Regions from separate parts of the Homo sapiens genome. Here region 1 is linked to region 2. The links come from fine-mapping of genetic effects on gene expression. A gene starts in region 2. The other region holds a variant in brackets. All regions are shown on one strand. Distances are between the middles of the regions. Region 1 overlaps MAML1 (mastermind like transcriptional coactivator 1). Region 2 holds the start of SQSTM1 (sequestosome 1).

Region 1 (5,366 bases), 72 kb after region 2:
CAAAAAAATCTGTGGTACTAAATTATCAAAATCCAGTGTGCATTTTACACTTTTAGCACAAGTCAAGTTTAACAAGGTGCATTCCACGTGCTTAAGAACCTGACCTGGCTGATGGCTACCCTCATGGACAGTATAACTATAGAAAGTAGCCAGCTGGGCACGGTGGCTCACGCCTGTAATCCCAGCACTTTAGGAGGCCGAGGCGGGTGGATCACCTGAGGTCAGGAGTTTGAGACCAGCCTGACCAATATGGTGAAACCCTGTCTCTACTAAAAATAAAAAATTAGCTACGCATCGTGGTGTGCGCCTGTAGTCCCAGCTACTCGGGAGGCTGAGACAGGAGAATCGCTTGAACCCAGGAGGCAGAGGTTGCAGTGAGCCAAGATCGTGCCACTGCACTCCAGCCTGGTGACAGAGCGAGATTCTGATTTAAAAAAAAGTAGCCTTGAACAACTAAGTTTTCAGGACAGCACTGAAGATAAGGGAAGCCCCCGGGACCTGCCGCCTGGGCCCAGCAGCAGCTCCTTACTGCACAAAGGGCTCCATACAGCAGGCACTGTGGCTCTGTGCCAGCTGCCTCCTTGCTGGGAATCGTCATCCTTGCCCACCTTTCTCTTTCTAGCAAACTCTTCCTCATCATCTCATTCAATTTATCCAATAAGAATCTACTGAGAGCCGTCAGGCCTGTAATCCCAGCACTTTGGGAGTCCCAGGCAAGCGGATTGCTTTGCACTCAGGAGTTCGAGACCAGCCTGGGGAACACGGCAAGACCCCACCTCTACAAAAAATACAATAATTAGCCGGACATGGTGGCTCATACCTGTAATCCCAGCTACTAAGGACACTGAAGCAGGAGAATAGCTTGAGCCCGGGAAGCAGAAGTTGCAGTGAGCCTAGATCGGGCCACTGTACTCCTGCCTGGGAGTCAAGAGACCCTGTCTTAAAACAAAAACAAAAAAATCTATTGAGAGCTGACTGAGCCAGCCACTCTCTGGGCCCTAGGGATACAGCAGAGAAACAAGCAAACAAAACCACAGGCTCTCCTAGAGCCTATATTCTAGCTGAGACGTACTCCCGAGAAAACAAATCACTCAAAGAGAGAGTTGGTGGGACTTATGATTCCAAATAAGGTGCTCAGGAAAGGGCTCACAGAGTAAGCATGTGAAGTCTAAGCAAGAATCCGCAGGAGATAAGAGCACATGGCCACATCCACAGAAGATCATTTGGTAATTTTATTTACTATTTCACTATTTGGGCAGCTATTATAACTACATGTAAATGAATATCAAAGATGATTAATATTAAAGCGGAGAGCAGGTGCACACTGGCAGTGCAAGGAGAGGGCAGCACTGCCCCTGCTGGATGGAGGCTCCAGGAGGTGAGCGCATCAATCTCCAGGTTGTGATCTGACTTCTGCTTCTCCGGGAGCTGACAAAGCCCCTCCTGAGGAAGTCGTGAGCAAGATCTTGGAGTTTTGGGAAACACAGGGCTCAGCATAGTCAGGCACCAGGCAGGGCCAAGGTGGGGACCAGGCGCTGGACCTGCAGTGGAAATACAGTCAGAGCAAGGGGGCTGCCCTGTACTTCCTGTTTCTAAGCTCACCATGGCCTGCCTTCACCTCTCGGTGGGTTGCACTGCTGCAGTATGGCTCAGTTGCCCTCCACGTCTGGTGCAGAGCCGCCACCCTAGGATCACTTCTCGCCATCCTCTGTGGGCCTCCCAGGCCATGTCTACTGTGTTGGGCTCCTGTTTGCTGTATCTGTGTCTTACTCTTTCATGATTTAGTCTTTCAATTTGGTGGAACACATCTTCCAGTAGCTTCTTGAGAAGGAGTATGACATTTAAATTTTTTAAACCTTTTTCGGCCAGGCACAGTGGCTCAGGCCTGTAATCCCACCACTTTGGGAAGCCGAGATGAGTGGATCACTAGAGGTCAGGAGTTCAAGACCAGCCTGGCCAACATGGTGAAACCCCTTCTGTACTAAAAATACAAAAATTTGCTGGGTGCGGTGGCTCACGTCTGTAATCCCAGTACTTTGGGAGGCCGAGGCAAGCGGATCACTTGAGGTTGGGAGTTCAAGACCAGCCTGACCAACGTGGAGAAATCCTGTCTCTACTAAAAACACAACATTATCCAGGCGTGGTGGCGCATGCCTGTAATCTCAGCTACTCGGGAGGCTGAGGCAGGAGAATCGCTTGAACCCAGAGGCGGAGGTTGCAGTGAGCAGAGATCGCGCCATTGCACCCCAGCCTGGGCAACAAGAGCAAAACTCCATCTCAAACAACAACAACTAGCCAGGTGTGGTGGCAGGCGCCTGTAATCCCAGCTACTCAGGAGGCCTAGACAGGGGAATTGCTCAAACCCAGGAGGTGGAGGTTGCAGTGAGCCAAGATCATGCCACTGAATTCCAGCCCGGGCGACAGAGTGAGACTCCATCTCAAACAAACAAACAAAAAACAAAAAAAAAAAAAACAAAAACACCTTTTTCTCACTTATTCTTGTTGTATAGTTAGGCTAGGTACAGAAGTCCAGGTTAGTAATCACTTTCCTTCAGAATTTTGAAGACATTGTTCCAATTCTCTTTTTGCTTCCTATGCTGCTGCCATGAAGTCCAAAGACATTCTGATTCTTGATATGTGACCTGGTACCCTCCCATCCAGAAGCTTGTAAATCTTTTCTATCAACTCAATGTTCAGAAATTCCATGCCTGGTGCAGGTCTATTTTCTTCCCTAGTGCTAGGCACAAGTACACAGTTTTAATCTGTTGGCTCATGTGCTTCTGTTATCAACTATTTTATAGGTCACTTCCCACCTTGTTTTCTCTCTTCCTGTAATTCCTATTATTCGGATGTCGGACCACTTACACTGGTCCTTAAATTT[T/G]ATTGATATGCCTTTATTAAACAACTCTTATAATATTGTTAGAACATTTTTAGGGCATGTGGTTTATAAAATCACAGTTTCTGTCTCACTTTTCAAAAACTGTGGTCAAAGGCACAGAACATAAAATTTACCATCTTAACTTTTTAAAGTATACAGTAGTCGGCTGGGTGCAGTGGCTCATGGCTGTAATCCCAGCACTTTGAGAGGCTGAGGTGGGTGGATCACTTGAGGTCAGGAGTTCGAGTCCAGCCTGGCCAACATGGCAAAATCCCATCTCTACTAAAAATACAAAATTAGCCAGGCGTGGTGGCAGGCACCTGTAGTCCCAGCTACTCAGGAGGCTGAGACACAAGGATCGCTTGAATCCAGGAGGTAGAGGCTGCAGTGAGCCAAGATATCACCACTGCACTCCAGCCTGGGCGACAGAGTGAGGCTCCATGTCAAAAAAATTAGTAAATAAAGTATGCAATAGTGTTAACCAAATGCACATTGTTGTGTAAGTAGAACTTACTCATCTAGTTATATCCATGAACAACTCCCCTATCTCTTCCCCGAGCCCATGACAACTACCATTCTACTTTCTGTTTCTATGAGTTTATTTTAGACATCTCAAATAAGTAGAATCATGCAATATTTATTTTTTGTGACTGTCTTATTTCACTTAGCATAATGTCCTCAAAGATCATGTTGCAGCACAGAACAGTATTTCCTTCTTTTTTTTTTTTTTTTTTTTTGAGATGGAGTCTCGCTGTCGCCCAGGCTGGAGTGCAGTGGGACAATCTCGGCTCACTGCAGGCTCCGCCTCCCGGGGTTCACGCCATTCTCCTGCCTCAGCCTCCCAAGTAGCTGGGACTACAGGTGCCCACCACCTCACCTGGCTAATTTTTTGTATTTTTAGTAGAGACGGGGTTTCACCGTGTTAGCCAAGATGGTCTCGATCTCCTGACCTCGTGATCCGCCCGCCTCGGCCTCCCGAAGTGCTGGGATTACAGGCATGAGCCACCGTGCCCAGCCTATTTCCTTCCTTTTTAAGGCTGAATAATATTCTGTTGTATGGATATGCCACATTTTCTTTATCCATTCATCTGTGATGGACATTCAGGTCGCTCCCTCCTAGTGTGATCAATGAAGCCCTAAACATGGATGTGCAAATCAGGACCTCCTGCCTTACCTCTACCAACTCCACTTCCCAACTGGTCCTAGCCCAAAGCCATACAGCTTCTGACTCTCACTTCAGAGCACCTTCTATAATACCATTAACACACAGTCAACAGATGCTTGATGACTGCCAAATACAGCAGGTACAATGCCAGACTCTTGGTCTTGCTCTTAAGTTGCTCATAGTCTAATACAGAACAGCAAAAACACACTAATTAAAAGTGTGAAAGCCAGGTGCATTGGCACACATCTGTAATCCCAGCTACTAGGGAGCTAAGCCCAGGAGTTGAAGGCTGTAGTGCACCATGATAGCACCTATGAATAGCCACTGCACTCCAGGTTGGGAGACAGAGCAAGACTTCGTCTCTACCAAAAATAAAAATAAACCCAGCCTGAGACTCTGTTTCAGGGGTAGGCGGCTGGGAAATAACAAAGAAAGAAAGAAACAAGGTACCTCTTAACTGAAAGAATAGCAGGCATAATCAATAACCAATTTATAAGACTTGCTAAAGGCTTTTTGTTATATTTCTCACTGAGAGTGAAGACTAATGACTAGATAAATCCTTTTGCAAGTCGGATGGTTTCTAATTCTTAGTTTTCAATGAAATTAAAAGACTAACCAAGTTGTCAACTGATAAGTTAATTTTTGATTATATGTAACTGTGATTTTTTGGCACACAATTCAGGTTTCAAAATATTGAGTAACATTGCTGGCTAGGTGTGGTGGCTCACGCCTGTAATCCCAGCACTTTGGGAGGCCGAGGTGGACCAATTACCTGAGGTCGGGAGTTCAAGACCAGCCTGACCAACGTGGAGAAACCCTGTCTCTACTAAAAATACAAAATTAGCCGGGTGTGGTGGCGTATGCCTGTAATCCCAGCTACTCGGGAGGCTGAGGTGGGAGAATCACTTGAACCCTGGGAGGCAGAGGTTGCGGTGAGCCAAGATCACGCCACTGCACTCCAGCCTGGGCAACAAGAGCGAAACTGTCTCAAAAAAAACAAAACATTGCTATAACTAAACTTATTCCCTTTTTTTTTGAGACGGAGTCTCGCTCTGCCGCCAGGCTGCAGTGCAGTGGCACAATCTCCGCTCACTGCAATCTCTGCCTCCCAGGTTCAAGCGATTCTCCTGCCTCAGCCTCCCAAGTTGCTGGGATTACAGGCAACAGCCACCACACCCGGCTAATTTTTGCATTTTTAGTAGAGACGGGGTTTCGCCATGTGGGCCAGGTTAGTCTCGAACTCCTGACCTCAGGTGATCCGCACCTGCCTCGGCCTCCCAGAGTGCTGGGATTACAGGTGTGAGCCACCGTGCCAAGCCATTT
Region 2 (5,366 bases):
GGTCCCGCCGGCACTCTTTTTTCTCTACAGGAAGGGTAAAGAGAGCCGCTAGGGTGGGACCCCCTAAAGTCCTCCCCCTCTGTCGTCACTGTGGGGCTGTCACTGCCAGCAAGGCCCCCGGCCCTGCTCTCCAGCATGGAATCCACACAAAATTCAGCCACTTAGGTGAGGGCAGCAGAGCCACCAAGAACCTGCTAGGAGGTTCCCAGTCCCTGTGTCTGTTTGGCCCAGGCAGCAGAGCAGCAGCAAGGAGCCCTGTCTGCACAGCTTTGGCCTTGCCCTTCACCCAAGCGCCACGGCACCAGACCCCATCCCTAACCCAAGCACCACGGCACCAGACCCCATCCCTAGAGTGAACATGGACTCCTCTTTCTCAGGTCAGGCACAGCACTTAAAATGTCTTTTTTTTTTTTTTTTTTTTTTTTTTTTTTTTTTTGTCGCCTAGGCTGGAGTACAGTCATGTGATTTCGGCTCATGGCAACCTCCGCTCTCCAGGTTTAAGTGATTCTCGTCTCAGCCTCCTGAGTAGCTGGGACTAGAAGCATGTACCACCACACCCGGCTAATTTTTGTATTTTTAGTAGCGACAAGGTTTCACCATGTTGGCCAGGCTGTTCTTAAACTCCTGACCTCAGGTGACCTGCCCGCCTCGGCCTCCCAAAGTGCTGGAATTACAGGCGTGAGCCACACCTGGCCTATGTCTCTGTCTTAAACAGCCCTCAAATTGCTGACCCCTTCATTGGTGGAACATCGAGCCCTGTTTTTTACTCAGCAGGGAACTGAGTACAAGCTGAGCTGGCTTCAGGCAGCCCCCAGAGCAGCCCCTTACCTTTAATGTAGATTCGGAAGATGTCATCCTTCACGTAGGACATGGCCATTGTCAATTCCTCGTCACTGGAAAAGGCAACCAAGTCCCCGTCCTCATCTAGATTGTTTAAAAGACAGCACGTGAGCACCCAGGGGTTCTCAGCTGGACATAAGCTGCTGGAATGGGCTGAGGCAAGTATGAAAGGGACACTCACAGGGCTATAAACAAACACACCTACTTGAGCCACAGAGGGCAGGAGTGAGAGGCAAGACTACCCCCTTGCTCTGGCACCTCCTGGAAGGTGAGTGCTCCGACCTGGGCCCTGGACCACAGCCACATGCAGGGGGCGGAGGGCCTGTGCACAGGGGCAGCAGCTTTGGCTGCTGCACTTATTTAGCCTTGGGCCAGCTGCCTTTTCAGAAACGTGCCACCTCATTCCCCATCCGACCAGGCCCATGTCCGTCTTCAACTGTGGGAGATCCCTGCCTGTGACCTGCTCCTGAGGGGCCCAGCCCCACAAAGGCCTTAGACTTCTAGTGGCTTGGGAGTAAAGGAGAAGACAAGGGCATCTGCCTGCTTCCTTCCCTAACAAAGCTGAAAGACACGTATTTGTATGTAGTCTCCATTTGTGACAGATACATATGAGCTGAAATGGCTTTAAAGCACAGCTGTGCAGACCAAACCACGCCATCCACCGAGGGCACAGGTGAGGCACCCAAAGATGCAAACAACCCAAATGTCTGTCAACTAATGAACAGGTAAACAAAACATGGCCTGTCCACACAACAGAATATTATTCCTCCAAAAAAAACTAGTTCTGATATGTGCCACAACACTGAACACATTACACTAAGTGAAAGAAACCACTTGCAAGACTACATTGTCTGATTCTATTTACATGAAATGTCCAGGATTGCAAGATGAATAGATACAGAAAGGAGGTTGCTGGGGGCATGTGGATAAGAGGGTGATAAAAGGTATGTATGGCGTTTATAAGGTGATGAAAAGCTCTCACACTGAATATGGTCCACAAACCTATGAAAATAGTGAAAACCACTGACTTGTACACTAAATGGGTGAACCCTTATTTCAGTTACAGCTCAATAACATCACAATTTTTTTTTTTTTAAGAATAGGAGAGGGCCTGGTATGCTGGCAGCGCTCCAGAGGGAGGTCCTAGCACTGCACCCTCCCAGGGGCCGGCCTTGGCCACCTCCCGCCCTCCTGGCCACAACCACCTCCCTAACCCCACCCCCAGCAGCCACTGGTCACACCAGCGCAGCAGGAAACAGGGCTTCTGTGCCAACACCAACACTTCTGAAGAACGTTCTCGTCCACTTGCCAATGGGAAAACATCTGTACTCGACCTGGCTCGGAGCGTTCCGCCGGCGATCCGTGCCCTTCTCCCAGGCGCTGTCGCGGCGCTCGCGAGTCCCCCGCACCCCCGCGCTTGTTTACCCGCGTCACTCCCTCCCCTCGCCGGCGCTCGCCCGGCTCCTCCAGGGCATTATCTGAACCCACCACCTGGCGCAGCAAGGTGTCAGTGTAACCCGAGTGCCCGCCTGACCACCCAGTGCCCGCGGAGAGCCAGAGCGTTCGCCCCGGCGCGTCCTTGCCAAAATCCCCAACAGCGCGGGGGGTGGAGCGGGGCGTCTGACGCCCCCAGGCTCGAGCCCCCGGCCGGCAGGGCTCCACCGCCCCAGGGGGCCGACGCTGAGCAGCGGGTCCCGGCCTTGGTCACCACTCCAGTCACCAGGCCGGCTCCCATGGCCGAACTGGGGACCCATGCAGGCCACCGCCATCCAGGGAGCAGCCAGCGCAGACCCCCTCACGGCCCGCCAGGCGTCGCCGAGAAGGGAGGGGGCAGCCACCCCGCGGCAGGAGGCCGTGTCCGGCCTGCGTCACCGCCCCCGCCGCTCCCCGGCCCGCTCACCGCGGTAGTGCGCCTGGAAGCCGCCAGGCCGCAGCGCGGGGAACAGGGCGGCCACCCGGCTCAGCAGCCGCTCGCAGGGTCCCGGACCCGCCGCAGCCTCGGCTTCCGCCTCAGGCTCGGGGCTGCAGCAGAAGCTGAAGCGGCGAATCTCGCGCGCCGCGTCCTCCTTGCCCAGAAGGTAGGCCTTCACGGTGAGCGACGCCATAGCGAGCGGCGAGCTGGCGGAAAACGGGCCGTCCCGGTCGCAGCCGCCGCGCGGCTTTTGTAGCGAACGCGGAGGCCCCGCCCCGCCTCGAGAGGGGCGGAGTCTCTCGCGCCCTCCCCGCCCCCGCCACCGTCGTCGCGGCGCGAGAGCCGCCCTGCAGAGGCCCCTTCACTACTCTCCCCTTCCCCGCTACCCCTCGCTCCAGGTCTCCCGGCCCCCTCATTGCTGACCCCTCTCTTCATTGCCCCGGTGCACCAAGGACCCCAGGAAACCGGCCCTGGCACTCATACAGGCCTGGGCTCCAGCCTCTGCACCTGGGATCAGGGTACTGGCGGGGGTCCAGCCCCTCGCCCCTCCCAGGCTTGGGCCTGGCCATGACTCAGCAATATCCTCAGTTGGGGGTACCCAGTGCAGGGAGAGGGGGACACAGCCCCCATATCAGGAGGCTGCTAGGTCGCCCAGTGGGCACTGCTGGCCAGAACAAGCTGGCTCTCAGGTTGCTGTTCCGACCCTGCCATGGTCAGCCTGCCGCGGTGGCAGCCCTCTTACAGCGCATGGCATCCTCGGTGATGGGCAGCGCATAGCATACTCGGTGACGGACCCCGACTCTGGCCTGAGCACCAGAGAAGTTCCCAGTTTAGTAGGAGTGGAGTTGAGAGGTGCTGGAGGACCAGCTAAGGTCTCCTGAGTGTCAGTGGTCGCCAAGTGTTCACTGTGGTCCAAGTGACTCCTTATGGGCTCCTCAATTCAGCAGGTAATGCCCATGGCCCTGTGGGGGCTCAGGCCCGTTGGCCTTGTGGGCAGCCAAGGGGGTCAGCCAACAGCCTCCTCAGCTAGGAAGGAAGAAACACTGCTTTATGCCACCAGAGTAACCTGTCCGCCAGAACTGGGGCAAGGAGAGGGGCAGGACGAGTGGTCACCCTCTGGAGCCTCCCAGGCAAGGTCCTGTGAGTAGGAGGTCAGAACCTGCTGGGTCCAACTCATGCCATTTCAGCCCAGGGCTTGCAGGAGCTGGAGAAACCTCCCAGGGGAGGAAACCCAGAGGGAGGCAAGAGTGGCTGGATGGGGCCAGTCAGGTGCGAAGGTGATGTGTGGGTGTGCGCACAGCAGGGGCTGGTCCACAGGTGTGAATGATCCTTCCCGGAGGGCTCCGAAGTGGGCAAGGCTTCCACCCTGCCCAGAGCAGCCCTGTGGAGAGGGTTCAGGCCTCTCCCTGCATCCGGCGGTGGAGAGTGGAAAATGCCCCAGGGCCTGCTGGAGCCACTGCCTTGCAGACAGGGGCAGGGGACACAGAGGGGCGTGCTGGCAGAGGCTGTGGCCTACAGACAGGTGCTGGCCAAGCGTGACTCAGCAGCCCAGGCGCCTGAGAGCCACGTGGCCCCCGCCGAGGGCCGGCTTTCCTGCCCCAGCCCCCGGCTATGGCCCGGTCTGAGCAGGGTGAGGGACACAAGGAAGGCCTGTGGCTCTGGGAACATAGCTTTGAGGAAGCGCTCAAGGCGCCCCACTCACCCCCAAGAAGGAGCTCCTTTGCTTTCTCGCCATTTGGCCCGTTTGGGATCGCGGGAAGTTTCCGCGGGGGCTAGGGGCATGTGAAGAGACTGGGGGGGGGGCGGGGAGGGGAGAAGGAAGCACAGAAGAGGGAGTCTTTGGGAAGCTGGGGTGGACACCCGGCTCTGGCCCTTCCCCGCACGCCTTGCGGCCCCAGCGGCCGCCCTGCCCCCACGCGAGGCCGAGGCCTCCCGGAGGTAAACAAGGCGCGGCGGGAACCCCCTGGCAGGGCCCTCTCCTCCCGCCGCGGAGGTCAGGTGGTCTGGCCGGCAGTGAGTCAGCGTCCCATGACCGCTGTCGTAATAGGGGGATCCCCGGCCCCTGCTGCCACCCATCTCAGTGACCTCTTACCTGGAGGCTGGGCTGGGGAGTGGCTCCGGGGTCACCGTGAGTCCCCTGAGCAGGAAGAGCGTGCAGCGGCTGGAGCCAGACAGACACTCTCCCCCTTCTCGCCTCTGACTCCTTCCCCTTTCCCGATGCAGTCCCACCCCGCAGGCTCCCCGCGTCCACTGGCCCCTTCCCACCCTCCAGGGCCCGGCGTGCATGCCCAGGGAAGGCTCGGCACCTGAGCCGCGAGACCCACTATGGACCAGCCTCTCATTTCCTCATCTTTCAAATGGGGCTGAAGTGGAAGGATTTGGGCTGCCCTCCCAGGCGATGCCCCGTGGGTGTGCGAGTTGTTTAGCTGCTTTTGGGGCTGTAAGCTGGGGGGTCAGGGCAGGACAGAGACTGCAGGGGGGCTGAGGTGGAAGAGTGGGGAGGGCAGGAGAGGCCTGAGCCAAGCGCCCAGTGGTCCCAGGAGACCAGCCGGGGCAGCCACAGGGGTGGTCTGGTTCTGTCTGTTGCTGCCCAGCATGTTGTAACCACCTCCTC

The links. PIP is the estimated chance that this variant, and not a neighbour inherited with it, causes the effect.
Region 1: its variant is the best candidate, but not a certain one, in a credible set for the expression of SQSTM1 in whole blood (TOPMed, PIP 0.53).

The regions. Positions count from the first base shown.
Region 1 is chr5:179,746,058-179,751,423 of GRCh38, reverse strand. All of the region lies in intron 1 of MAML1 (mastermind like transcriptional coactivator 1), which reads right to left. Among named protein-coding and RNA genes, the nearest start is that of MAML1, 16 kb to the right of the region's middle. RefSeq lists an enhancer at 1,176-1,676. The variant T/G (reference allele first, on the strand shown) is at 2,882.
Region 2 is chr5:179,818,516-179,823,881 of GRCh38, reverse strand. It overlaps SQSTM1 (sequestosome 1), which reads right to left and starts at 2,977. Exons shown (of 8, transcript NM_003900.5): 1 at 2,741-2,977; 2 at 829-924; 3 at 1-24. The coding sequence starts at 2,945. RefSeq lists enhancers at 1-118, 119-657, 2,766-3,475, 4,083-4,242, 4,643-4,942 and 2 more and silencers at 2,363-2,542, 2,553-2,812, 2,923-3,172, 4,473-4,652.